Homo sapiens: one gene and its partners. The protein of the gene in region 1 purifies or fractionates together with the protein of each later gene. This does not show direct contact. Each region holds a gene or a part of one and is shown on either strand. Other genes may lie near its edges. The genes, in order: CAPN2, MYO9A, CCZ1B and AFG2B.

Region 1 (7,954 bases):
CCAGTGTTGTGAAATCCTCTCTCCGAGGAAGAGCAGCTCCTCCTGCTGCAAGGCTAACCTGCTCCCCTCCCCTGCCCACAACCCGTATTCTCACTTCCTCAGGGATCCTGTTTCACTGCCCCCTCCCTGCCTTTATCTTTAATCCCTTCTTCCTGGTGATTCAACATATGACACATTCAAGTTGTTCTCATATGAAAAAAACACAGGCTCTCAAAGTCCAGGTCCTACTCTACCTATCAGTTCTCCTCTCTTCCCGGGGGTCCTTCTTAAATAAGTTGATCATGTTCTTAATTTCCAGTTCCTTTACTCTGGAGTCTACAACAATCTGGCTTCTACTCTCACCTTTCCATTGAAATTGCTCTGCTAAACTCACCAATGACTTGCTAGTGTTCAAATCCAGCGGAAACAACTGTGCTCCCCTTGCCTGACCTCAGCAGCATTTGAGAAGGTAGGAAGGAGGCAGAGAGCGCAGCCATAAGGGGTAGGCTCAACATGCACAGACTACACACAGTCCTGGATCTATGCCCTATATCCACTTGACTCTGAGCAAGTATTTAACCTTCCCAAGCCTCAATTTCTTCAACTGGCAAATGGGGATCGTAAAAGTCACACTCTTCCTTAGTTGTGCAGTGCACAGCCCGCCTGCCCTAAGCAGTGGCGCTAGATCATCTCTAGACCTCTACATCCTCATCTGGAAGTCCCACAGGCATTTCCAACTGTTGGGGGACCTGTCTCTGTCCCCTCACTAGCCTCAGAAGTAAGTCTTCAGAAGCAGAAACCATATGCATTGTGCCCAGCATATAGTAGGTATTCGAGAAATGCTTACTGAATGAATGAAAGAATAAGTGAATGAGTATGTGAACTCACTATGTAAACTGTAAAGTGCCATGCAAATGTAAAGTGAACACATTCTCTTGGTTTGTGTTTCACTTTTTTTTTTTTTTTTTTTACTTTTTTATAGAGACAAGTCTTACTGTGTTGCCCAGGCTGGTCTTGAACTCCTGGCTCAAGCGATCCTCCCACCTTGGCCTCCCATAGTGCTGGGATTACAGGTGTGAGGCACTGAGTCAGGTCAGCGTATCACTTTCACAACCATAATTTCATTTGAGGCACATTACAATCCTGCATCCATATTCTACAAACAGTCACTTCTTTTGTGTTCACTGGTGTATCTCCTGAGCTCTCAGGACAGTGCCTGGCATGTAACAGGTGCTCAATCAGTGTTGTCAAATGAGTGAGTAAATGAATGAATGAATGAATGAATGAATACTGTGAAAGGCATGGTTATGTGTCAGGCACTGGGGATATACTGGTAAATAATATACACATGATTCCTGCAGTTCAGTAGGAAGAACAAATACATGTGATTATATTCTAAACTGTGACAATGCTATGAAGGAAATGAGTGGGGTGACAGAGAAAAACAAGGTGGGGAGGTGGCTGCTAAGAAGGGTCAGAAAAGACCTCTTTAGGAAGGGAACATGTGACTAAGTTGGGAAGAATGAGAGTGAGCCACACTCCAGGTAACAGCGTGCCTTGCTGGTGAGAAGGCCTCATGCAGGAAAGAACCGGCTCTTTGAGAGACTGAAAGGAGGCCATGACGGCAGGGCCTAGTGGGCCACAAAAGAGAGAAAATATTTAGGCAGCATGTTTTCTTTTAGATGAAGACATGGAGGCACAGAGAGGTTAAATGGCTCGTTCAAGGTCACCAGCAGGTTAGCAAGAAGAAGAACCCAAGTGCTCTGAGTCTGGGCTAGGGCGCTTCCTGCAGCCCTTGCTACCTATGGGCTGGATTTAGGGTAACAGAAGGTGACCTGGGAGGCTGCTGGGTGTGGAAGCAGAGCTGGAAGCCTTGTTCTCACAACAGGAATCTAGAAGTTGGACTTCAGGGCAGGCTTTCCTAGGCGTGGTAGGGGAAGCCTGGGGAAGTGTCCCAAAGGAGGAGGAGCCTCAGGGGTTCCCCAAGAAACAGAATGGACAAGTAGATTGGGGAGCACAAGTTGTCCCAGGGCCGGGAGGTCAGAGACCCTGGGGGACGGGATAAGGGGGTCTGGAGGGCTCCCGGAGGTTTCCCGGGTGATTCCCGCCAGGGAAACCATGAGACACCTCCGTGTCCTGGGTTAATTACCAGTGTCAATGTTATGAGGAGGTATCGCTGGCTCCCCTTTGGAAAAATAAATCTAACCCCAGGGCTGCAGGAGACTATCCTTAGTCACAAAATGACCAGGCTATGGCCTGTCCCCCTCCATGAACAGACAGAACCCCAGTTGGAGACGGACTTTGTCTGGTAGATGCTGCCTCTCACCGTCCCTTCCCTGCAGACCCGATTCCCCTTCCCTTCCAGCTCCCCGCTAGAGTCCAATCAAAGTTTCACCCCGGCCTCCTGCATCACCCTGAGTTTTTGTGAAGTCCTAAAGTGGCCTGCTAGTGGGATCTGAGGGCAGTGATTCGCCTCGACCCGCCCAGGAAAGCGTGGTGGGTGGAAGAGAGGGAAGGCCCCGGGAGTCCCCCCACGCTCGAACAGAGTCCCGGGCTCTGGCGGCGCGGAGGTGTCGCAGGACTGCGAGGTCCTGGCTTGCGGCTTCCCCACTGCAGCACCCGGGCTGCCCCCCGCCCCAGCGCGCCGCGGGCCGGCCTGCACCCCGCCCTGCCCGGCACCCCGCCCTGCCCGCGTCCTGCCGCGCGCTTCCTACCGTGGGGCGCTTCCACTCGATGCCCCGGGTTTTGCTGGAGTAGGGCCCCAACTCCTTGAAGCCCAGGGCCGAGGGGATGGCCGGGAAGGACGGGTCCTGGAAGAGCGTCCCGGCCTCCAGGCACTCGTTCCGCAGCGCCTCGTAGTCCTGGTTGAGGTACTTGATGGCCCTGTCGTGGGAGCCCAGCCCCTCGGCCGCCTCCCGGTCCTTCGCCAGCTTGGCCGCGATGCCCGCCATGCTGCGGTCCCGGCGGCCGTACTGCGCAGAGAAAGGTCGGGGCGACTCCGCGCTGCGCTCGGCTGGGGCGCGGCCAGGGCCCGGCGCGCTGCTGCGGCCACTGCGGGCGCCGCCGCTGCGAGCGATGATTCACCGGAGGGAAGCGGCCCGGCCCGCGGGGTGTGGCCTCAGCCGCTCCCGGCCTGCTGGGCTCCCGGCCCGGGACCAGGCCATCCTGCGGCCTGCCGAGCGCCGGGAACGCCGCGACCCGGGGCCGGTGCTGCCATCTGCGGACAGCTCCCGGGATGGCGCGGCCCGGCGCCGGGGAGGCTCGCGAATCGCGGTCCAGAGTTGGGGCTCCCACCGGAACCCGAGGCCACCTTTGCAGCCCATAGGGAAGAAGGCTAGGATAGTTGTGGCCGTCCGGAAAACACCCGGGGAGTTAGCAGAGGGTCAGGTAGTGAAGTCGAGGAAACTAAACCAGCTGCCCTGAACTTTGTGCCAAACAGCGTCTTAACGGCTCTGCATACATCATCTCATTTAATCCTCCCAGCGACTCTGAAGAAGGCGCTGATATTGTCCCCATTTTACAGATGAGAAAACTGAGCCTCGGAGACGCTAAATGACGTCCCCAATGTGGCACAACAGTCACAGGCAGAACAGGGACTCTAAGCCACCGGAGGCCTATTGCAATCACAATGCTGCAATTACTACTGCTCAGCTGTTTATTTGATTATAGATAGGGTTGTCAGATTTGGCCAATAAGGCTGGGTGCGGTAGTTCACACCTGTAATCCCAACACTTTGGGAGGCCGGAGGCAGGCGGATCACCTGGGGTCAGGAGTTCGAGACCAGCCTGGTCAACATGGTGAAATTCCGTCTCTACTAAAAATACGTCGTGGCAGGCACCTGTGATCTCAGTTACTCGGGAGGCTGAGACAGGAGAAACGCTTGAACCCAGGAGGGAGAAGTTGCAGTGAGACGAGATCGCGCCACTGCGCTCCAGCCTGGGTGACAAAGCGAAACTCCATATCAAAAATAAAATAAAATAAAATGATTTGGCCAATAAAACAACAACCCTCCCAAATGTTTAATTTGAATTTCAGATAAACAACAGATACTTTTAAAGTATATGTAGGGCCCAAATATTGCATGGGCATACATACTTATTCTAAAAGAAAATATGATTCATTGTTTACCTGAAACTCATATTTAACTGGCAGGATTAGTTGGGTTACTATAGGGAGAGAGCATTTAGAATACTGCCTGTGTTGGCTACTGTGACCACTCTGTTGTGGAGCTAGGGTGTGATTCTCATCTCACACACAGAGACATGGGTGCGTGCCAAGAAATGCAGATGGGCAGAAATTACCTCCTCTTCTTCTCTACAGTAGTAGGGAAGAATTTGGGTTTCACTGGAAAACTGTGCATGGTCTACAGCAGTGGTTCTCAACTGGGGGCAGTTTTGTCCCCTACCCACCCCAGGAGACATTTGGGAATGTCTGGAGATAGTTTTTATGGTCACAGCTAGGAGATGAGGTGCTACTGGCCTTTACTAAGTAGAAGCCAGGGATGCCGCTGAACATCTTCCAATGTCCAAGATAGCTCTTGTGAACCCAGAAAATCTGAAACAGGTCTCATTTAATTTAGAAAGTTTCTTTTGCCATGGTTGAAGATGCACACCTGTGACACAGGAAGTCCTGAGGACATGTGCCCGAGGTGGTTGGGGTGCAGCTTGGTTTTATACATGTTAGGGAGGCAAGAGCCATCAGTCAAGTACATTTAAGAAATACATTGGTTTGGTTCAGAAAGGCGGGACAACTCAAAGTGGCGGGGGGTGGTGGGTGGGTAGTGGGGGTGGCTTCCAGGATATAGGTAAATATTTAAACATTTTCTGGTTGACAATTGGTTGAGTTTGTCTAAAGGCCCAGGATCAATAGAAAGGAATGTTTGGGTTGCGATAAGAGGTTGTGGAGACAAAAGTTTTATCACATAGATGAAGCTTTTAGCTAGCAGGCTTCAGAGTGAACAGGCAGTAAAATGTTTCTTATCAGACCTAAACTCTGGTTGATGTTCACGCTGGAGAGGTATAATGAAGCATGTCCGACCTTGCCTTTCCTTCATGGCCTGAAAATTTCAGGTTAAAATTTTAAGAGCCTCGGCTAAGGAGGAACCATCCATTTAGATGGTTGGCGGGGGTAGGGGAGGGGGAGGCTTAGAATTTTATTTTTGGTTTACATTCTCCACCCAAAACATGATCTAGTCCAAGACATCAGTCATGTAGAGGCTGAGAAACCCTGGTTTAGAGCATCTCCTTCCAGAAGATCTGGGTCTAGCCTTTCATTGTTTTTGTTGTTGTTGTTGTTGTTTTTGTTTTTCTTGAGATGTAGCACCCTGTCACCCAGGCTGGAGTGCAGTGACAGGATCTTGACGATCTCAGCTAACTGCATCTTCTGCCTCCCGGGTTCCAGCGATTCTCCTGCCTCAGCCTCCAACGTAGCTGGGATTACAGGTGCACACCACCACATCTGGCTAATTTTCTATATTTTTTGTAGAGATGGGGTTTCACCGTGTTGGCCAGGCTGGTCTCGAATTCCTGACCTCAGGTGATCCGCCTGCCTCAGCTTCCCAAAGTGTTGGGATTACAGGTGTGAGCCACCACACGAGCCCCTTTCATTGTTTTTGAGTTATTTTATAACTCTAAGTTGTATATAACTGTAGCAATGTATAGTTACCTAAGTAACTCTAAGTAAGTAATCTAAGTTGTAGATAACTGTAGCAATGGAAAATAATTTTTCCTATAGATATGCAAATGCATTCTGTCCAGTAGAGGCACTACAGTCCCCCTGTAGAGAGACCAGTTTTTTGTCTAGTTGCATATTCCATTTCAGTACTCTTCACGTCATGTAAATTGTGCTGCTTTGGTTTCTCCTTTGAACCAGTTATAACATCCACCAGATTGCCTCGTTTAATCAAGTTAAATGGACTCTTTTTTTTTTTTGAGATGGAGTTTCACTCTTGTTGGCCCAGGCTGGAGTGCAATGGCACAATTTCGGCTCACCACAACCTCCACCTCCCAGGTTCAAGTGATTCTCCTATCTCAGCCTCCCGAGTAGTTGGGATTACAGGTGCCTGCCACCATGCCTGGCTAATTTTGTATTTTTAGTAGGGACAGGGTTTCTCCACGTTGGCTAGGCTGGTCTCGAACTCCTGACCTCAGGTGATCTGCCCACCTCTGCCTCCCAAAGTGCTGGGATTACAGGTGTGAGCCACTGCACCCTGCCGAAATGGAATCTTTAAAATGTGTTTATTTTATACTAATATGAGAGCCATGATGTTACCTTTTCTTAAAGCAAGTATTTTTGTCACTATTATTCCTCTGCCCCCATCTATTCTTGTCTCTGACACCCATTGCTTACCCCCTTTGCTTGACAAAACTTTGGTCAGACTTCTCTCTTTCCTACAGATCCCTGAATGCTGCTTGCCCCCAAGCCTGAACAAGCACAAACAAAGTGGAGTGTCCCTGCCAAGTCACTTCCCTGCCCAGCTTCTCCTGGGAATTGACTGAACACAGCAAGACCCTTTTCCTGTCAGCTCCCACTGGTCATTTCCCCTCACTTGTCCAGCTTCCCCTCCCAAGAGTCTGCTTATCTCCACTTGCTCCTCCTTTACCCTAGAAAAGAAGAATCTTTTTCTGTTTGATTTTGAGCTGCTTGCAGATTCTCTGAATTGGAATTGTCTTTCTCTCTTTTTTTTTCTTTTCTCTTCTCTTTTCTTTCTTTTCCTTCCTTCCTTCTCTTTTTCTCTATTTTTTCTTTCTTTCTCCCTCCCTTCTTCCCTTCCTCTCCTTCTCTCCTTCTCTCTTTCTCTCTCTCTCTCTCTTTCGCTCTTTCTTTCTTGTTTCACTCTTGTTGCCCAGGCTGGAGTGCAGTGGTGCAATCTCCACTCACTGCAACCTTCGCCTCCCGGGTGCAAGTGATTCTCCTGCCTCAGCCTCCTGAGTAGCTGGGATTACAGGTACCAGCCGCCATGTGCAGCTAATTTTTTTGTATTTTTAGTAGAGACGGGGTTTCCTCATGTTGGCCAGGCTGGTCTTGAACTCCTGACCTCAGGTGATCCACCTGCTTTGGCCTCCCAAAGTGCTAGGATTACAGGTGTGAGCCACTGCGCCTGGCCTGCAATAGTCTTTCTTTCTATTGAAGTGTCCCTTTATAAAAGTCTGGATTTTTTTTTTTTTTTAAACAGAGTTTCACTCTTGTTGCCCGGGCTGGAGTGCAATGGCGCGATCTTGGCTCATTGCAACCTCCGCCTCCCGGTTCAAGTGATTCTCCTGCCTCAGTCTCCCATGGTTTTGTTTTTATTTGACATCCTCCATCTCTGGTTTGCAAGTCTGGGCATGCTGCCTGATGGGCAGGTACCACCGTCCACCACCAGGCTTTGCTTTCTTTACTCTTGAATAAGGCGGGGACACAGGTTCCATTGTGTAATGGTTGGCACTCTGGACTCTGAGTCCAGAGATGGGGATACAGGCATTCATTTCTAGCTCATGGGTTTCTGGTGCAAGGGTTTCATGAAGCCATCACAATTGAAAACAGAGGAAAGCGACAGCCCTGTCCTGGAAGCTGTTCATTTGTTCCACTGTCTGATTTCCATTGGCCCCACCCCGACTTCTTCTGGGCTCGAGGCTCTTGGGAGAAAGCTTGTCCTTCTGCCCAGTGGGGCAGAGCGCAGGCTTCTCCTCCCACTGATCTCCTCAAGGACAGCTCATCTCTGGAGGAAGTGACTCCTCCCAGGCAGGTGGAGGTCATTTCCCTCCTAAGTCATTTTAGCAACAAATGGGCAGATCAGACCTATCATTCCAGTCAACTCAGAAGCTTTGCACAGCCTGGGAGCAGAAGAGCCTCCTGGCTCACCTGAAGTTCCTCTTCCCCAGCTAGGCAACACCCTCTTTGGTGCAGCCCTGGCCACTCCCCTTGCCAGCCTTCTAGGGATCGCTGCGCACATAGAGCTCTGCTTACAAAGGGCTTTAGGCTGTCCTATGCCACC
Region 2 (6,395 bases), on another chromosome or scaffold:
CCTGGATGGGGACAGTAAAAATGGACTCTCTTTGCTTCTTAGATTCCTGACTTCCATGGAGGATCTTTTTTTCTGTTATCTTCCTTCCACTTCCTATCAAATGCTAATGGTTTCTTGATTGTGTCTTACAGGGAGGAGCTAACATTTGAGATGCTTGTACTGGAACCCCGTGCCTCTGATGATGAAACCCTTGAGTCTGAGGCCTCCATTGGGACTGCTGATAGCTCAGAGAATTTGAATATGGAGTCTGAATATGCTATCTCTGAGAAATCAGGTAAGTGAACATGGTAGACCAAAGACTCCAGATTTGTTTTGCAAAGGAGGAATAAAGATTCCAAAACTAAGACAAAGTCTTTTAAGAATTTACTGACTGTACATCAGCAATAACAAAGTCTTGAGGAATTTTGTCCTTTTATCCATATAATTTTAGCCTTCATCGTTTGGCATACAGGTAGTGACCTGGATGGGGATAAGAAATATAAGGGGATAAGAAATATAATTGTCTTTGCTACTTAGATTCCTGACTTCCACGGAAGGTCTTTTTTTTCCTGTTGTCTTTGTAAAGCTTCCATATACATTGTTTATCAAACCAACTCTTCAACGTGATTGAGTTTTTTGTTTTTTGTTTTGTTTTGTTTTGTTTTTTGGTAATTTAATGTTTTATCCTGTACTTACCACAGAGAAAAGCCAATAATCACAATATATGTTGTCTTACTGACCCATAACCCATTTTCTGAGGGTGGCAGGCATTGTGCCCCCACTGTGAGGTGGGACTATATACATATACAAAGGAGGTGTTTAACTGGGTGGCATGTCTCAGGGAGATGTAGGACTTACCTGCATATCCTGGCAGTTTTTGAAATGATAGTGACTGTTCTAGGCCTCCGCTGATGGCATAGTCAAACACCAGATTTCCTTGGAGATGATTCGGAAATGCTACATAGAGAAATGGATGGTGAGCTCTTACTGTGACTGTGCCCATAGTAAGTCATCCTGGACCCTCTGAATCTTATCCCACCCAATTTCATGTGTGAACAGTGGCATCTATTCATTATATGATGATTTGCTTTAGAGGGCACTGTCATTTACATCTTTGGTCTCTTTTTTGCATTAGAAAGAAGCTTAGCCCTTAGCTCCCTGAAGACAGCTGGCAAGTCTGAACCTTCCAGCAAGTTGCGAAAGCAACTTAAAAAGCAGCAAGACTCTTTAGATGTCGTGGACTCTTCGGTCTCCTCTTTATGTCTGTCTAACACGGCATCATCTCATGGGACCAGAAAACTATTTCAGATTTATTCCAAATCTCCATTCTACCGAGCTGCCTCAGGTAATGAGGCCCTGGGAATGGAAGGACCATTGGGCCAGACCAAATTCCTGGAAGACAAGCCTCAGTTCATCAGCAGAGGAACCTTCAACCCGGAAAAGGGCAAACAAAAATTAAAGAATGTGAAAAACTCACCTCAGAAAACCAAAGAGACCCCAGAGGGGACAGTCATGTCTGGCCGCAGAAAAACTGTGGACCCAGACTGCACCTCCAACCAACAGCTAGCACTCTTTGGAAATAATGAATTTATGGTCTGAACCGGCAGATGTGTGTCCCTCCGTGGCTACAGAGTGGTAAACAAATCTCACCTTTGGGGCTGCGTTTCATCACCTCGTCCACAATAGTCAATCCTAATTGTGGTCCTGCCTCTTTTCTAAGCATATGGCTAAGACTGTATGTGCTGAATTCCTGGGCCTCCTGCAGAAGCAGAAAGCCTGCTGGGGATGGTGCCAGCTGTGCCTTGGCTGTTGTATTTGAATTGAGATTTTTACTATACAAAGCCACCTAGGGCCTGGGGATTTGGGTCAGTTGTAGTTGCCTCTCCCCCACCCTCTTTTCCCTTCCCAAAGGTGGGTGTTGAACTAGGGGGGATATTGCTGTCCTGAGGGACCCTCTCATTTCTGACATTTGAAGAAAACGTATAAATCTTTCTTAACCGTGAAAGCAAAAGCCTTTGGGTTTATTTTGGGATAGTTAGGAGCTAGGGTAGAATATAATTTTTTTCCAAAAACTTACTTACAAACAAAAAGCCTAATCCCTCTATTTTAAGATTTCTGAAAAAACACTCCATGTTATATTCTGGGGAAAGCAAAAACAAAAAAAAAAAACAAAAAAAAAAAAACAAAAAAAAACCGTGATTGTTTCCATTAAGCCATCAGAGCGTGTCTCAGATATCTTGTTATACAGTGAAGAAGAGAATACCTATTTTTTTTGATGATGTTTGATGTCATAGTAATCAGTGCTGGTTTAACTCCTGTTTAGTTCCTGCCAAATACATTGCATGGGCTGAAGTGTCAGTAGCCATACTGTTCTCATGTTTCTTGGTCCTAGGATCAGATTCTTCTACATTATTTTTTAGTTTCCCAGAGACATGGTGATCCCTAAACTTATGAAGGTTTCATCCTAAGCCATTCAGGCTTTTCTCTTTGTATAGATTAAACCGAAAACCGCATATGAGCCTGTTCATCTGCTGGTGGATTCCCACCACAGACTCAGACTCAAACAAACAAACAAATAATGTGACCGTTTAGTTAGTTTCCAAAAACATTCACATACAATATTGCATGAATAAGTAAGTAAGTGTTACAGAAAGCTGCCAAAAAATAAAAAGGTTTTTAATATGACCTATCTAACTAACTAACTTTTATCTTCCTTTTCTCAGACTATCAGTATTAAATAGATGGAAAAAAATCAAGGACTACTTGAAGCTATTTTTGTTAATATTCTGGTTACTGAAGTTTATTGTAAATATGTATGTATAGTAGGCATATTTCTTTTTAACCTTGTGCTTCCCTCCTTCCCATGGAATTTCTTCCCACAGATGAGGGGCCACTGGACAGGGGGATGAGAGCCATTCGTCCCTGGGTTGAGGGAATTAGTAAGACATCATTTTCACCACTGGGTGGTCTTCATACACATGAGTTATAATAGCATTTTAAGTATCTTAGCATTTGTGGGATTAGAAATCTGTTTTTGCTATTTATAATATATAAAAAATGAAACATGATAGCCTTTCTTGAGATAAGTATGTGAAATGTTTATTTTTAAAGTTACTAAATGCATCTTGTCTTGCTACTACATGCACTGCTCTGAAAAAGAGCCTTTACCATCTATAACCTGTATTTTGGGTATTCTTCCTTTTCATACTTCTTTGAAGTTGTGGAAATATTAAGTCTTTTGTTAAGGCAGAGTCTCTCTCTCCTGTTACACAACACTGAACCTCACGCCACTGCCTCAGTGGTTATTGGCCAGCCCCAGAGGTTAGACTTGGAGCATAATTCTGAGTGGCAGCTAAAGGTAGCAGGAGTCTTACCTCTCCCTACTTTGGGTTCAGAATTGAGCCAGAGAAAGGAAGCCATTAAAATCTCCAGAATAATGATAGTTAATGAGCAAATGTTATGCTTTATATCCCACAGACATCTGCCACCTTGTTCATCTTGTCCTGAGGAGTAATAAATAATGTTAAGCTTTTAAAAATCTGAATTTCAGAGAATCTCCTAGAGGATAGAGGAAAACCCCTCAGCATGGTGTGTTAGAGTGGGATTGCTGGTTCCTCAGCCCCGTGCCAGGTTGCACAGTCTGTGTTTCAGTGTTCTTGGGAGAGTAGTGTACTGCTGGGCATTAATTGTTACTCTGCACTTGCTCCAGAATGTTGGTTAAATCCTGTATGAAAAAAAGAGATTGCCCTTATGGAATAATTTCCTGTGGCCCAGAGGAATGGCCAGAAGAACATATGTTGGCACATGTTCTTCCTTCTAAATCTTTGTGGGGCTTTTTTGGCAAAATAAGTTTTTTGGCAGTTAAAAAACGACTGATGTAGGTCACTTTAAAGGAACTAGGTGATGGATGTTAAGAGACTTTATAATTTTTCTCAGGGACCTGAAACTCCAGTTTGGATAAAATTCAATTAAAAAAACTTGTTTTTTCAGTTGCTAGATTTGTGGATTTCTAGTAATTTAATCTGCCAGGATTGGGGTGGGTGGGTGAGGAGGAGAGAGCCACAAAATGATAAGAGTGGAGAGCAGTGTGGGGCCCTCCCTTTGAGGGAAAGCCGTTGTTTACATAGGGTAGTAGGCCTTGTTGGCCTGATCAAGAGATGAAGCCATAACTCTTAAAAACCTTCAGAACCAAACGCTGTGTCTGCATCCATCTGTTCTCACTGGCCCTCTGCATGGTAAAGTTATGTCACCACAAAGTGATGCCGCATTACAATCACTTATGAAACTGTTAGCCCTTAATATGCATCACATTTGTGGTTCCATAGTGCTTCTCCTTTGCTTGTTTGATCTCTGCATGGCAGCAGTGGGGCAGCTCCACATTTGGAGCCCATACTCCAAAATGCAGAGCACTCTTCTCACAGCACACATTCCCAGCCCCAAACAAAACCTGAATTTTCAACTCTGCCCATTAAAGTGAATGTATCCCTGTAATTTAGTATGTACTTATTATGGAAAATGTAACAAAAGCAGAGAAGTGTGATTTCATTCTGTATCACAAATTGAAGCAAATCAACAGCAAATACAGCAGGATTCAGGGAGGCTTAGTTTACAACGTACTTTGTACCTCCTGCCATTTAAATTATTTTGCCACTCTGGGCTTCTGAAAACACAAAGGGAGATACAGCCCTCCAACTATGAGCCTTGCAGAGAGAGACAAAAGGGCCAGAGGTCCTGGGATGGAATACTAGAGCCCCCACCTTCTCATGCTTTGGAAACCTGCCAGAGCACTTACCCTGCTGGAAGATTAATGAAGACTCCATTCTGTGTTTCATAACAGTAGCGTTGTTTTCTCCATCAAAAACAGAGGGTCACAGAAATGTGCTGAAAAGATGTGGTCCAGCAAGGTTCTGTAGTCCCACCTCAGTGCCTGTGGGCTGTGTTTTTCACTGTAACAAGCACTTTGGTAAACTAGAAAGAAGAAAGGATTCTCAGGATGTGTTCAAAGCTAAGAGAGTTTTCATTTTAAAAAGAAACATACATACTCACTCCATGGCTTTCCTCATCCTCCTCTCTTTTTTCTTCTTGGTGGGAAGCTGGATGCGGGGCATGCATCATTCTGTATGGACAAATGTGTTATGTCCACCCATACTCTTGTGACAACTCCCCAGCACTGTCCTGCAATACCATGCTGGCCTTGGTAGTAAAACTCCTTGGTATCTGTGAGAGTCCTCTTTTTCTATGCCCTAGACTACTTTTAACCACTTTTCTCTGGAATGACTCCCACATTTGATTGGGTATTGAAAGGGTAACAGCAAAATGATGATTGTGGAGATGGATCTATTAGGTCTCATGTTGGTCCCCTGGTTGAAACTATTTTCAAAAAAGCCCCAACAATGGGCCTGTCACCTTGCTAGTCATCCATTCTTAATGCCTATTTATCAGCCCTCTGAGGTCATATAAAAGTTGCACCTTTTGAACCAAGTATTTGTATTTACTATGGGAAAGGTGTGGACTACAGATTCGTATTATATTATTTTAATGGATTTTAAGTAATTTATAAGTATGCTGAGTGTAAATTTTTTTTAAAAACTGTATTATAAAAGGACATATCCTGTGAAATATAACATTTTACTGTTTAATAGAATAATTCTATAAGAAGAATGATTTATCTCACCCACGGAACTGATTACATTCCGGATGCAATCAATAGGCACTTTGTAATTTCCTTTTTGTTTTTTTTTCTTTGCTGGGGGGTTGAGGGGTAACAAGATACCATCTGTATAAAGTGCAGTTTGTGTCACTCAAAATATGCACTGTATGGCTACACAAAAGCAGCTTGATGAACAAATCACCCCATGGCTCATTAAAGAACAAAGCTTCCAGAAGCAGCAATATGTGTGGTTTGTTTTCCAACCATCCTGGCTCCCACTCCAACTATTCCAACCCAACTCCAAGAAACAGCAGTGACTTCTTAGTTACACTGATGTGTTTTCAGGAAAGGACTCAACCCAAAGTTGACAAAGCACAGAGGTGGTAGTCACTGGAACTCAACTGAATTCAAGTGAAGGTGTGATTCAAGGTGTCGTTTTTTCTGTAGTGGATGCAGGCTGCTGGCTGTCAAGACTTCATTTAATCGGTTTAAGGCTAGAAGGGAGGAAAAGCAGTAAATCTGCATTTAGGATCCTCCCCTAAATTGGCCACTTGAAGAAGTTGCTAATAGAGGTTGCCAATAGAGGGCCCAAGGATTCTCACTGAAATTCAAAGCAACACATTGCAATAGGAACAGAAATTTTAACTCAGTTTGTCATTTTTGTTCTGCTACCAACTTTACTGCATGTCTGGGAAAGGCATTCGCTCTCTCTGAATGTTAGTTTTCTTATCTGGAAGTCAGTTCTGTTTCCCAAACTCCCAGCTTT
Region 3 (3,874 bases), on another chromosome or scaffold:
TGACTATGAGGTGGACATCACAGTGCTCAAGGAGCCGGCAGACGTGTCATCCTCTCACCTCATACTGGACCCTCCCAAGGAGGATGTGACCGTGTCCCCATCCAGCAAGACCATCACCAGCAAGAAGAAGAAAAAGTAGAGAGACACGAGGACACACACACAGGCTTAGGATGGCACGTGCTGTAAGATTTCCTGAGCATTACAGTTCTTAGCACTGAACTCGTCACAGTGTTTTAACATACCCCTTGGCCCACTGCATCTCAGGTTTCCTACATGGCTGGATTACGGGAGTTCGAGACCAGCCTGGGCAACATAGTGAGACCCCCCCATCTCTGCAAAATTAAAACATCAGCCGACCGTGGTGGTGTGTACATGTGGTTCTAGCTTCTTGGGAGGCTGAGGTGGGAGGATTGCTTGAGCTCAGGAGGTTGAGGCTGCAGTGAGCCATTGCATTCCAGCCTGGGTCACGGAGCTGGTGGCCAGTGTAATCTATAAATAGGCAGCAGGAGAGAGACTCAACACCAAACCAGAATTTTAAAAACTTTTAACAATTTATTAGTCTTATTTTCCAGTAAAATATTCAAATAATGTCAAAAGAATGAAATGATAGCGATATAGCCAACTACCTTTAATTAATTCCACATAAATATTTAAAATCTAAAAACCTCAGATCAGCAGACCGAGTCGAAATCTGATTCTTCAAAGCAAGTATTGCTTTACCCTTGTCCTGAATGCAGTCCGTCATATGACCACTAACTTGCATGTGACCAAATGTTTGCAGAGTGTTTTTTAGATATGCTCTCGGTGAGCCGTCATCCGTCAATCCAAGAAGAAGATGTTGTTGAACTGCGTTGCACAAAGTTTCTTGACCTCTTCTGCAACAAGGACACAACAGTGAGGAAGGAAGAGGCAGTCACTTAAAAGGTTACATAATATATAATTAAATTCTTCTTGGGTAAAATTAGGAAGAGAGATTTGCATTGATTTTGACCTTAAATCCCAGAAGACTAGGCAAGAATTTTTTTTTTTTTTTTTTTGTTTGAGACAGAGTCTTGCTCTGTCACCCAGGCTGGAGTGTAGTGGTGTGATCTTGGCTCACTGCAGCCTCTGCCTCCCAAGTAGCTGGGACTACAGGTGCACACCACCACGCCCTGCTAATGTTTGTATTTTTTGGTAGAGACAGGGTTTCGCCATGTTGGCCAGGCTGGTCTCGAACTCCTAACCTCAAGTGATCCGCCCACCTTGGTCTCCCAAAGTGCTGGGATTACAGGCATGAACCACTGTGCCCAGCCAAGAAATGTTAACAAGTAGAAGAGGGGAAAAAATCCACCTACAAAACCTACCAGGCCTCAGGAGTTTTGAGCCTATCAACACTGCTGCCCGGGGCCTGAGAAACTGCAAAGTGCCCGGGACACCCAGGGGAGGGGGTTAGAAGCACAAGGCTGGTGACACACACCAAGCACAAGGTTGTCATCCTGGGACAACTAATGGAACAACAAAGAAACGGACAGCAACCTTGAGCTGCAGACCAAGTGCTCCGCAGAGGGGTCAGGATTTTGATCTTACCACATTCACAGTTTAGATCAGGCTTGCATTAACTGATGTTTCTAGTGCGCACAATGACTAACACAGGTATTACTAATAAAGAGAAAAATGTAGTATGCCCAAGATACAAGGGGAAAAAAACGCTTACACTGAATTTCCACACAGTGTACACGTGGGGCATCTCCCAAGGGGGCAGCTCTGCCGAGGTGAGGTCCCCTCTCTCCAGGGCAGCCGAGCTATCAGCACCGCAGCTGCCGGGTCACCCCGTGCAGTGGGCAAGGCTGGCCGCTTTGGCGGGAAGGCAGGAGAAAATGTCTGCCTCCTTCTGCCTGTGTACAGAGGGATACTTGTAAACGGCTATGTGAACCCGGCAGCTTCTCCCTACAAAAGATATGTTTTTATCACAGGATATTAAAAAAGGACATTTTGGGCTGGGCAAGGTGGCTCACGCCTGTAATCCCAGCTCTTTGGGAGGCCAGAGGATCACTTGAGGCCTGGAGTTTGAGCCCAGCCTGTGCGACAGAGCAAGACTCTGTTTCAAAAAAAAAAAAGAAATTAGCTGGGTCTGGTGACACATGCCTTGGTGATACATGCCTGTGGTCTCAGCTACTCTAGAGGCTGAGGTGGGAGGACTGCTTGATCCTAGGAGTTGGGGGCTGTGGTGAGCTATGATTGCACCACTGCACTCCAGCCTGTGTGACAAAGTGAGAACCTGTCTCCAAAAAAAGGGGGACATTTCTTAATATAAAGTCATTTTTTTTTTTTTTTAGAATTGTAGAAAATAATTTTCTTTCTGCCATTGCCAAGTTTCCTGTGCTACAGGAAGGTCTTGTCATAGTTTTCCAAGGAACAGAAAATGGATCAAATGTGGAGCAGAGGCACCTGCTTAGAATCTCAACAGTCATGATTTGTTCTATTTACCTATTTTTTAACCATGTTTCTTAATGCAATGAAAAGACAACTTCTCAAATTCTCCTGAAATACCAAATCCTACTTACCATTTACTTCAATCAGGTTTGCATTTTTTTGATTCAAAATAACATAGAGCTCCCGCCGATCAGACTTCTTTCCAACAACCCAGTAATCACTCATGGCCTTCACAATGATCTCCTCATCTTCATCCACTCTGCAAGACGAGGGTCAAAATGCAATTGTTCGTTACTCATACGGCCAGACTGTGAGAATAAGCGTTCCAAACCAAGAACAGGAAATGGAACGGGCGCACGTGGCATTTAAAAGGCTCAGGGAGTGCCGCGCGAGGGAACCGGTGACTTCAGGGCTCCCGGGTCTGTTTGGAAGCGGCGCCCATGAAGGTGGTTCACGCTTGAACCCCATGGAAAGGGCTTGAAGGGATTTTCTGTGTCTTTTCTCGTCTTAGAAAGGGGACGCCTGATTGGAGAAGTGGCTGGAATCACCTGGTAAAGTCACTGTTGATGTCACCGAGAATCTTCATTAAATCCGGGTGCACGGAAGTGAGCGACACGCTGGGCGTTTTCCTCATGTGAACTGTGCTCTTCTCGGCGAGATTCATGTGGTTGAAGTAGATAAACTTAAACTGGGGTTCTTTCTCAGACCTGTGAAAACATGTCACGAAGACAGTAGCACTCGGGCCGGATACAACTAGATTCTTCTTTTAAAATTTTTTTGAGATGGAGTCTTACTGTCGCCCAGGCTGGAGTGCAGTGACACGATCTCGGCTCACTGCAACCTCCGCCTCCCTGGTTCAAGCGATTCTCCTGCCTCAGCCTCCTGAGTAGCTGGGATTACAGGCGCCCGCCACCACGCCCAGCTAATTTTTGTATTTTTAGTAGAGACGGGGTTTCACCATGTTGGCCAGGATGGTCTCGATCTCCTGACCTTGTGATCCACCCGCCTTGGCCTCCCAAAGTGCAGGGATTACAGGCGTGAGCCCCCGCGCCCGGCCCTGGCCCTCTTTTTCTAAACAAAGTTTCACGGGAACCTCGCCATTGCCACATGTTCATGTGCTGTCTGTCTGCTTTCCCACCAAAATGATAGTTGAGTAGTTTTAACACGTATCTACATATAGCCCGTGACATCTGAGATACTTATTATTGGGTCCTTTACCGTAAAAGTCTGCTGACCCCTGCTTGAGGAGAGTAACACCTCGTTCCTCCCACAGTGCGGGGAATGAGTGTCCCGTGGAAATTAACCTGCCTCATGAGGGAAGCCTACGACACTATGTAACGAAGCTTTCCCTCATATCATCCCCAGTGGACATCACTGTAAAACGCAGTCGCCTTTTCCACTGCAGTCTGATGAACATTTTAAATGGGATATACCTTTTTATTTCTTAAACTGACTAGGCAGT
Region 4 (7,035 bases), on another chromosome or scaffold:
GGGACTACTAGTCCCCCACGTAGCTGGGACTAACACCACATTTGACTAATTTTTTATTTTTTCTAGAGATGGGGTCTCACTGTATTACCCAGGCTGATCTTAAACTCCTGGGCTAAAGCAATCCTCTCGCCTTGGCCTCCCAAAATGCTGGGATCACAGGCACGAGCCACCACGCCTAGCCCACTTCTTTCGCTTTATTTCTTGCCATTCTCCACTCTAAGATTCAATAATGTCACACCATCTCTTATCTTCAATCCTTTGCACATTTTATTCTCTCCACCTCAAACATTCCCCCTTCCCTTCTTAGCTGGCTAACTCCCGATTTGTCCTTCCAATTTCAGTTTATACATCTCCTTTCTCAGAAAGCCTTCTCTGATGTGCCAAATCTGGGCTGGTGTCTTTCCTAGGTGCTCCCACAGTACCCTCTACTTCCGCAACTCACTACATATTTTCAATTGCCAACTCAGTATTAAGATTTGCCTCTCTGCACCACCCTCCTCACCACCCCACACTTACAATAAGCTGTGTGAGGGATGGGGCCACATCTGTCTGTTTCACATCACATGGTACCACACAGGCTTTTAGTAAATACTGCTGAGTGAATGAAGATTTGAAAAGATGCAGAAATGTTTTGAACCACAAATTTCTTCAATAATTAACTTACTTCTGTGCAGAGGTTTCTAAGATCAGCTCCAGAAAAAAAACAGGTTTCTGCTGCGAGGTTTTCTAAGGAGACATCAGGCCCTATTGGCATGGTTTTTGTACAGACTTTTAAAATAGAAAGCCTGCCCTGGAACAAAATAAAAAACAGTATTTTAAATCTTATAACATTTATGTTTGACACAATGATTTATTAAAATATTTTTAGCTTGAGTTTCCTTTCACATTACCGAGAAAATATATATAGGGGTTAGAAAGACTAAGTCATCAATGGCTTATATGACAATGGTAAAAATAACGACATCATAAAAAACTTATGAATCTTTTTTTTTTTTTTTTTTTTGAGATGGAGTCTCGCTCTGTCACCCAGGCTGGAGTACACTGGCACGATCTTGGCTCACTACAACCTCCACCTCCCGGGTTCAAGTGATTCTCCTGTCTCAGCCTCCCAAGTAGCTGGGATTACAGGCGCCTGCCACCACATCCAGCTAATTTTTGTATTTTTAGTAGAGATGGGGTTTCACCATGTTGGCCAGGCTAGTCTCGAACTCCTGACCTCTGGTGATCTACCCGCCTTGGCCTCCCAAAGTGCTGGGATTACAGATGTGAGCCACCACGCCCGGCTAAATCTCTCTCTTGGGTACAAATAATACTATCAGACATGGCTTAAGAAGCAAATACATGAATTATCAGATACAACTTAAAGGTATAATAGATATTAAATTTTATTTTTCTATCCCTTCAAAACTTGATAAAAGCCCAAGGAACAAAAAAATTCACTCTGTGCCTTTCACCCTCCCTGTCAGTGGCTCTGGATGTTAACGACAAAAAATGTACTGGTTGACCATGATACACTGCATAATCTCTGTAATCTCAGATTTCTGCACCGTACTTTACGGACAACAAATTTACTGGTTGACCACGATACACTGCATAATCTCTGTAATTTCAGACTTCTGCACTGTATGATAAGGATGCTGACTCAATCTTCAAAGCCCTTTTAACACTTTAGGATTCCTCCACTCTAGTTGCAAAATAACGCTGAGTAGACTCAGTATTTAGAGTCTGCCACAACACAAAAAATAACCACCATATATTTAGGCTTATGTTTCTCTGTGAACAAGATCAGAGTATCCAACAAAGGAAGATCAAAATTATGATGTCATGAAAGGCCACCAGGCAAGGAAGAAGGCGGAACCCAGGGTAAGTAGAACACCATGGACACCTATATCCAAGTTGGAATTCAATTCTGCTGAGCTCACACAGAGTAAATGTGTAAATGACTACCTTGTGATCTGGAGGTGGGATATAGATGATCTTATCTAATCTTCCAGGTCGTAACAAAGCAGTATCTAACACATCAGGTCTATTTGTTGCTGCAATAATCATGACACTTCGGTTAAAAACTTCTTGAAACTCTGAGGGCAAACACACAACACAAAGTAATGTCAATCAGTTGTTAATAAGTTTTCTAAAAATTATAAATCAGAAGGTCTATTTAAATTCAAATAGGGATATCCTTTTCTTGGGACCAGAATGCTTATATCCGCTTTCCAGACCAGCTTCTTGATATCAAGATATCCCAGAAACAAATCATTAACCAAAGAGCTACTTTGTGTGCATGGCTAAGGGAGTAGCTAAGAGAAACATTCTCCATATGAGAACCTATGAAAAGCCTTATCCCAAAGGGGAGAACACTCATCTGGTGACTTGAGTGCACCTGAGCCTCCAATGAAGGCTTACACCTTAAACAGGCTACTTAAAAAGACAGATACTTATGACCAACCGGTGGAGATATATGGCTACAGAAAGTCTTGACTCTCATATCCCTAAAGAGGAAGATTTACTCGACCTTTTATTTTTCTTTGAAATGACAATCTAAGTTGCAGGTGCGCAAATCCTGGATAAAGAAATGTCTAAAAGCAGACAGAGAAAGGCTTTACATATACTAAGCATTCAAAATCATTTGTTGAATAATCAGGCAGCTCTCCAGTGACGTAATCCCTCAAAGTACAAAGTTCCCTATATTTGCAAGTATTTTAGCAGATGCTGGGTGAATACCTGTCAGATGCTATAGAAGGAATTCCTGCATTTTGAAATGATTTGATTAGATAACCTCGTGGATACCTCCTAATTCTAGTGTGACATATTCCTAAGGAGTGTATGCAACAATTCCATATGACAATTTTTAAAATAGGAAAAGAATGAGAACGAGAGAGGAATAAAAGAAAAAGTATCAGGGACAATTTAAGGATACCAAACTCATCTGGAGAAGAGACTCAGAAAGAGGGAGGGGACTTCCAAAGGCCATTTTAATTCATTAAAACCAAAGAAACTCATTCCTCAAGAAAACTGGAAATGTTCCATTACTAAGACTATTGGAAATAATAATCTCCTTTGTTTTTCATTCATTCATTCATTCATTCAGATATGGGGCCTTGCTATGTTGGCCAGGCTAGTCTCAAACTCCTGGCCTCAAGCAACCCTTCTGCCTTGGCCTCCCAAAGTGCTGGGATTACAGGCGTGTGCCACTGTGCCCAGTCTACATAAACATTTTTAGAAAGAAATGAATACTGGTTTTTAGGACATGCAAACAAGAATAAACTGCCTTCTCTATTAGCAATAAGTAAAATTATATTTCTCATTCTTAGGAAAAATAAAATTCACATTCTTATATTTAAGATAATTTATTATAAAATGTACCTCACCTTTCCTAGCCAAATCACAATTTTTATTAGCTCTAAAAGTCCTAACAAAGTCAAACTGAAATTATATAAATCCTTCTATGAGATGAATTCAGCATAGGTAAAGCTATAGCATATATGCATTATATTTAATGTTGGCCTGGATTTTAGGTGCATTCTGGCTAATAAATACCTCTTCATTTTTTCAGCTCCTTGTATTTACCCTGTTGACTTGATTTACTTCCTCTTCTCTCTATTGTCTTAAGTCCAACACCATCTAATTCATTCAGGAGAACAGAAAGAACTCGTTCTTGAACATCACATCCTGTCTTGCTGGCTGAGCGAGCTCCCAAGATTGAATCAATTTCATCCAAAAACAAAATTGCTGGAGTGCTTGCTCTTGCTTGTCGAAATATCTTTTGTTAGGAAAAAAATATTAAAAAGCTATATGTTATACATTAGTCATGTGATATTACTATTTATAATCCTGTTTTTTTTTTTTTTTTTGAGACAGTCTTGCTCTGTTGCTCAGTTTGGAGTGTAGTGATGCGATTTCAGCTCACTGCAACTTCTGCCTCCCAGGCTCAAGCAATTCTTGTGCCTCAGTCTCTCGAGTAGCTGAGATTATAGGGTGCGCTACCACGTCCACTTAATTTTTTTGTATTTTTAGTAGAGACGGGGTTTTGCCACGTTGGCCAGGCTGGTCTTGAACTCCTGGCCTAAAGTTATTCACCCGCCTTGGCCTCCCAAAGTGCTGGGATTACATGCATAAGCCACCATGCCTGGCCACTATTTATAATTTTTAAAATAGATATAAAAAAGATTCTGAATGTCTATGAATTGGGGAATGAGTAAATAAAACAAGAAACAATGGAGTATTATGTAAGAGTTAAAAACCATATTTTCAAAGAATACTATAAATTTCAAAAGTAGTAATATTAAGTTTAAAAAAGCAGGATAAAGCTATAGATATATAAAACCTACCTTTGATTTTATTTAAAACAGAAAAAAAGACAAAGGAAATTCACCAAAATGTTAACAGTAGGTAGGAGGATTATGAAGGATTTCATATTTACACTTTCCTATATTTTCTAAATTTTTCAATAAACGTATAAATTTTTTAACTGGAAAAAACACTAGTAATATTTTTAAAAAGGTTTGTCCATAAGAAATGAAATAAAAATTCAAAAGTAAATTTAAACATATGGGGAAATAAACAAACCTGAGACAACACTTTTTCTGAATCTCCAACAAACGGTGAAAACAGATCAGCTCCACTCACTGAAACGAAAGAGCAGTGACAGCTTGTGGCCAGGGCCCTCACCAGAGTGGTTTTAGCACATCCAGGGGGCCCATAGAGGAGAACTCCCTTTGGTTGTGTCAGGCCCATTCTAACAAATTCCCAAGGGAATTTCAGAGGCCACTCAATGCTCTGAAAGTACACAAAAAGAGAAGAGTTGTTTTAGTATAATAATAAAATGTCATATCATCCAGTAAATTCATTTCTTCATTTAACAATTCTCAGCCTCCTATTATGAGCTGGAAACAGTCCATTCTCCACACTGCAGAGATCTTATCATTTGAATCAGGTGATACCACTTCCTGTTTAAAATCCTTCAATGATTTACTATTAGAACTAGAATAAAATCCAAATCCAAACTCCTTACTCGCCACAGCTGACAAGGCCTTATATAATCTGACTGTCTCCTAAACACTTAGTTTGTTCCCATCTCAGAGCCTTTCCTTGCTTTTCTCTCTGCCTGAACGTTCCCCAAGATCTTCGTGTGGCTATCCCTCATCACTCAGGTCTCAGCGCAGGTGTCAATTCCTTGGAGTTAGTCTTTCCTAACTACCTGGTTAAAGCGGAACCCCCTCCTCCTACTCACTCTCTATGCTACTGCCCATCCTTTACTTTTAAAGCAAGTATTCACTATTATTATTTTTCCACGTTGGGTTTGTCATTCTGCTCTGCTAGAACGTAAGCAAAGCTCACCTCAAAATCCCCAGCAGCTAGAATGACACCTACCCAAAGGAGGCACTCAGTAACAGTAAACCGAATAATGAATGAGTCCTCATTACCTTTAAGGTAAATGGTTTTTAACCACTTTAATCATTATTTTACAGATGCAAAAAAACTCGGGCCTAAAAAAAGTTAAGTAATTTGCCTAGGTCTTACTGCTAATGAGGTGGCAGAACCAATACTGACCCCAGACAATGTAATTCAAGAGCACCAGCAAGGAGCAACGGTGTTGAAGTGGAGGTAGGAGTCAGATCACAATAGGCCTTGAAAGCTTTAGTCTGCACTGAGGAAGCAGTATGGAGAATGGACTGGAAGGAAATTAAACTAGAGGCAGGGAGACCAGCTACAAGTTTCTTGCAATGATTCAGCCTACAAAAATAATAAGGCTGGAGTGTCACAAGCAGTGAAGATGGTGTGGAAGGGATGGATATTTGAAACATAAAACAGAATTGTACTTTACATAGGGACAAAGTTCTGATGCTATGCCTTTAGAAGACAGATTTCTGACTTAGGGGATGGGGTGGCTGGCTGTATTAACTGAGGTAGGGAATCCAAGTGTGGGGGCAGAGCTGACTAGCTGAACTTTTTACATGCTGAGTTTGACATCCCTGGGGTTATCCAGTAGGCAGGCAGTGAAGTAGTTCTGATGATCAGAAGAAATGTCTACTCTAGATATACAGATTTCTGAGTCAACAGTTTTCAGGGATGCTGTGGACATCAAGATCATCATAAAATCACCCACAGCTCCAACAAGAGGAGGACTCTGGGAGCCTCTTGAGCACTAACATTTAAGGGAGGGGAGAGGGTGGCCAGAAAGGCAGAAAAGCTTAATGTCTCAAAGCTAAGGAAACAGAGTGCTTCCAACAGGAAGGTGTGGTTAATTTCTCTCATGCATCTTGTGAACATTAAATGAGACAATGCATAAAAAATATTGGCGCATATTATAAATGCTCTTATCCATGGACTCAAAAATTCTAGGGTTCACTGGAGATAGATCTCCTGGTTAAGATGAATAAATTATAATTATTACTTATATATCAGTCTGTTATGTGTGTGGTTAGAGAAACCTAGTTCATTAGGGCAGGATCACATGTAGGCGAATTGGCAAAATCAATTTCTGAAACTGTAACGCAGGTGAGAGGATCTGAAGAGTTGCGTCCCACAGCTTCCACTGTGAAATCCACTATCAGGTAGCCATATTGTTCATTTCAATTTTGTGCTTTTACCAGTCCCTGTACTGCATCCATTTAACGTCTTTTAGATCAGAGATCCAGGCAAACTAAGGCCTTCCACCTTTATTTGGTACAGCCCAAACTAAGAATAGTTTTTACATTTGTAAATGCTTGAAAAAAAATCAAAAGAATATTTTCTGACATGTGAAAATTATATAATTTCAGTGTCTATACTTTTATCAGAATACAATTACTAATTTACATATGGTCTACAGCTGCTTTGGTGCTACAACGGCAGAGGTGAGTGGTTATGACAGAGACTGTGGATCACAAAGCTTAAAACATTGACTATGTGGCTCTCTCTACAGAAATCTGTTGACCCCCGTTTTAGATTATAATTTTTTTTTTTTTTGAGACGGAGTCTCACTCTGTCCCAGGCTAGAGTGCAGTGGTGCAACCTCAGCTCACTGCAACCTCAGCCTCTTAGGTTGAAGCGATT

What was found.
Region 2: the proteins of CAPN2 (region 1) and MYO9A purify together in Homo sapiens (co-immunoprecipitation; 2 studies listed by BioGRID and IntAct, with this or other methods). This does not show direct contact.
Region 3: the proteins of CAPN2 (region 1) and CCZ1B purify together in Homo sapiens (co-immunoprecipitation; 2 studies listed by IntAct). This does not show direct contact.
Region 4: the proteins of CAPN2 (region 1) and AFG2B purify together in Homo sapiens (co-immunoprecipitation; 3 studies listed by BioGRID and IntAct, with this or other methods). This does not show direct contact.

Annotation. Positions count from the first base shown.
Region 1 is NC_000001.11:223,707,617-223,715,570, reverse strand, and holds the start of CAPN2 (calpain-2 catalytic subunit), read right to left. Parts: upstream 3,033-7,954; 5' UTR 2,931-3,032; coding exon 2,694-2,930; intron 1-2,693. UniProt on the Homo sapiens protein: Calcium-regulated non-lysosomal thiol-protease which catalyzes limited proteolysis of substrates involved in cytoskeletal remodeling and signal transduction. Proteolytically cleaves MYOC at 'Arg-226'.
Region 2 is NC_000015.10:71,821,763-71,828,157, reverse strand, and holds the end of MYO9A (unconventional myosin-IXa), read left to right. Parts: intron 1-131; coding exon 132-274; intron 275-1,114; coding exon 1,115-1,578; 3' UTR 1,579-5,867; downstream 5,868-6,395. UniProt on the Homo sapiens protein: Myosins are actin-based motor molecules with ATPase activity. Unconventional myosins serve in intracellular movements. Regulates Rho by stimulating it's GTPase activity in neurons.
Region 3 is NC_000007.14:6,798,405-6,802,278, forward strand, and holds the end of CCZ1B (vacuolar fusion protein CCZ1 homolog B), read right to left. Parts: intron 3,120-3,874; coding exon 2,961-3,119; intron 2,672-2,960; coding exon 2,544-2,671; intron 876-2,543; coding exon 820-875; 3' UTR 533-819; downstream 1-532. Other genes in the region: RSPH10B2 (radial spoke head 10 homolog B2), read left to right, coding at 1-139.
Region 4 is NC_000015.10:45,412,312-45,419,346, reverse strand, and holds part of AFG2B (ATPase family gene 2 protein homolog B), read right to left. Parts: intron 4,777-7,035; coding exon 4,567-4,776; intron 3,761-4,566; coding exon 3,568-3,760; coding exon of another isoform or gene 3,542-3,567; exon of another isoform or gene 3,442-3,541; intron 2,079-3,441; coding exon 1,948-2,078; intron 791-1,947; coding exon 665-790; intron 1-664. UniProt on the Homo sapiens protein: ATP-dependent chaperone part of the 55LCC heterohexameric ATPase complex which is chromatin-associated and promotes replisome proteostasis to maintain replication fork progression and genome stability.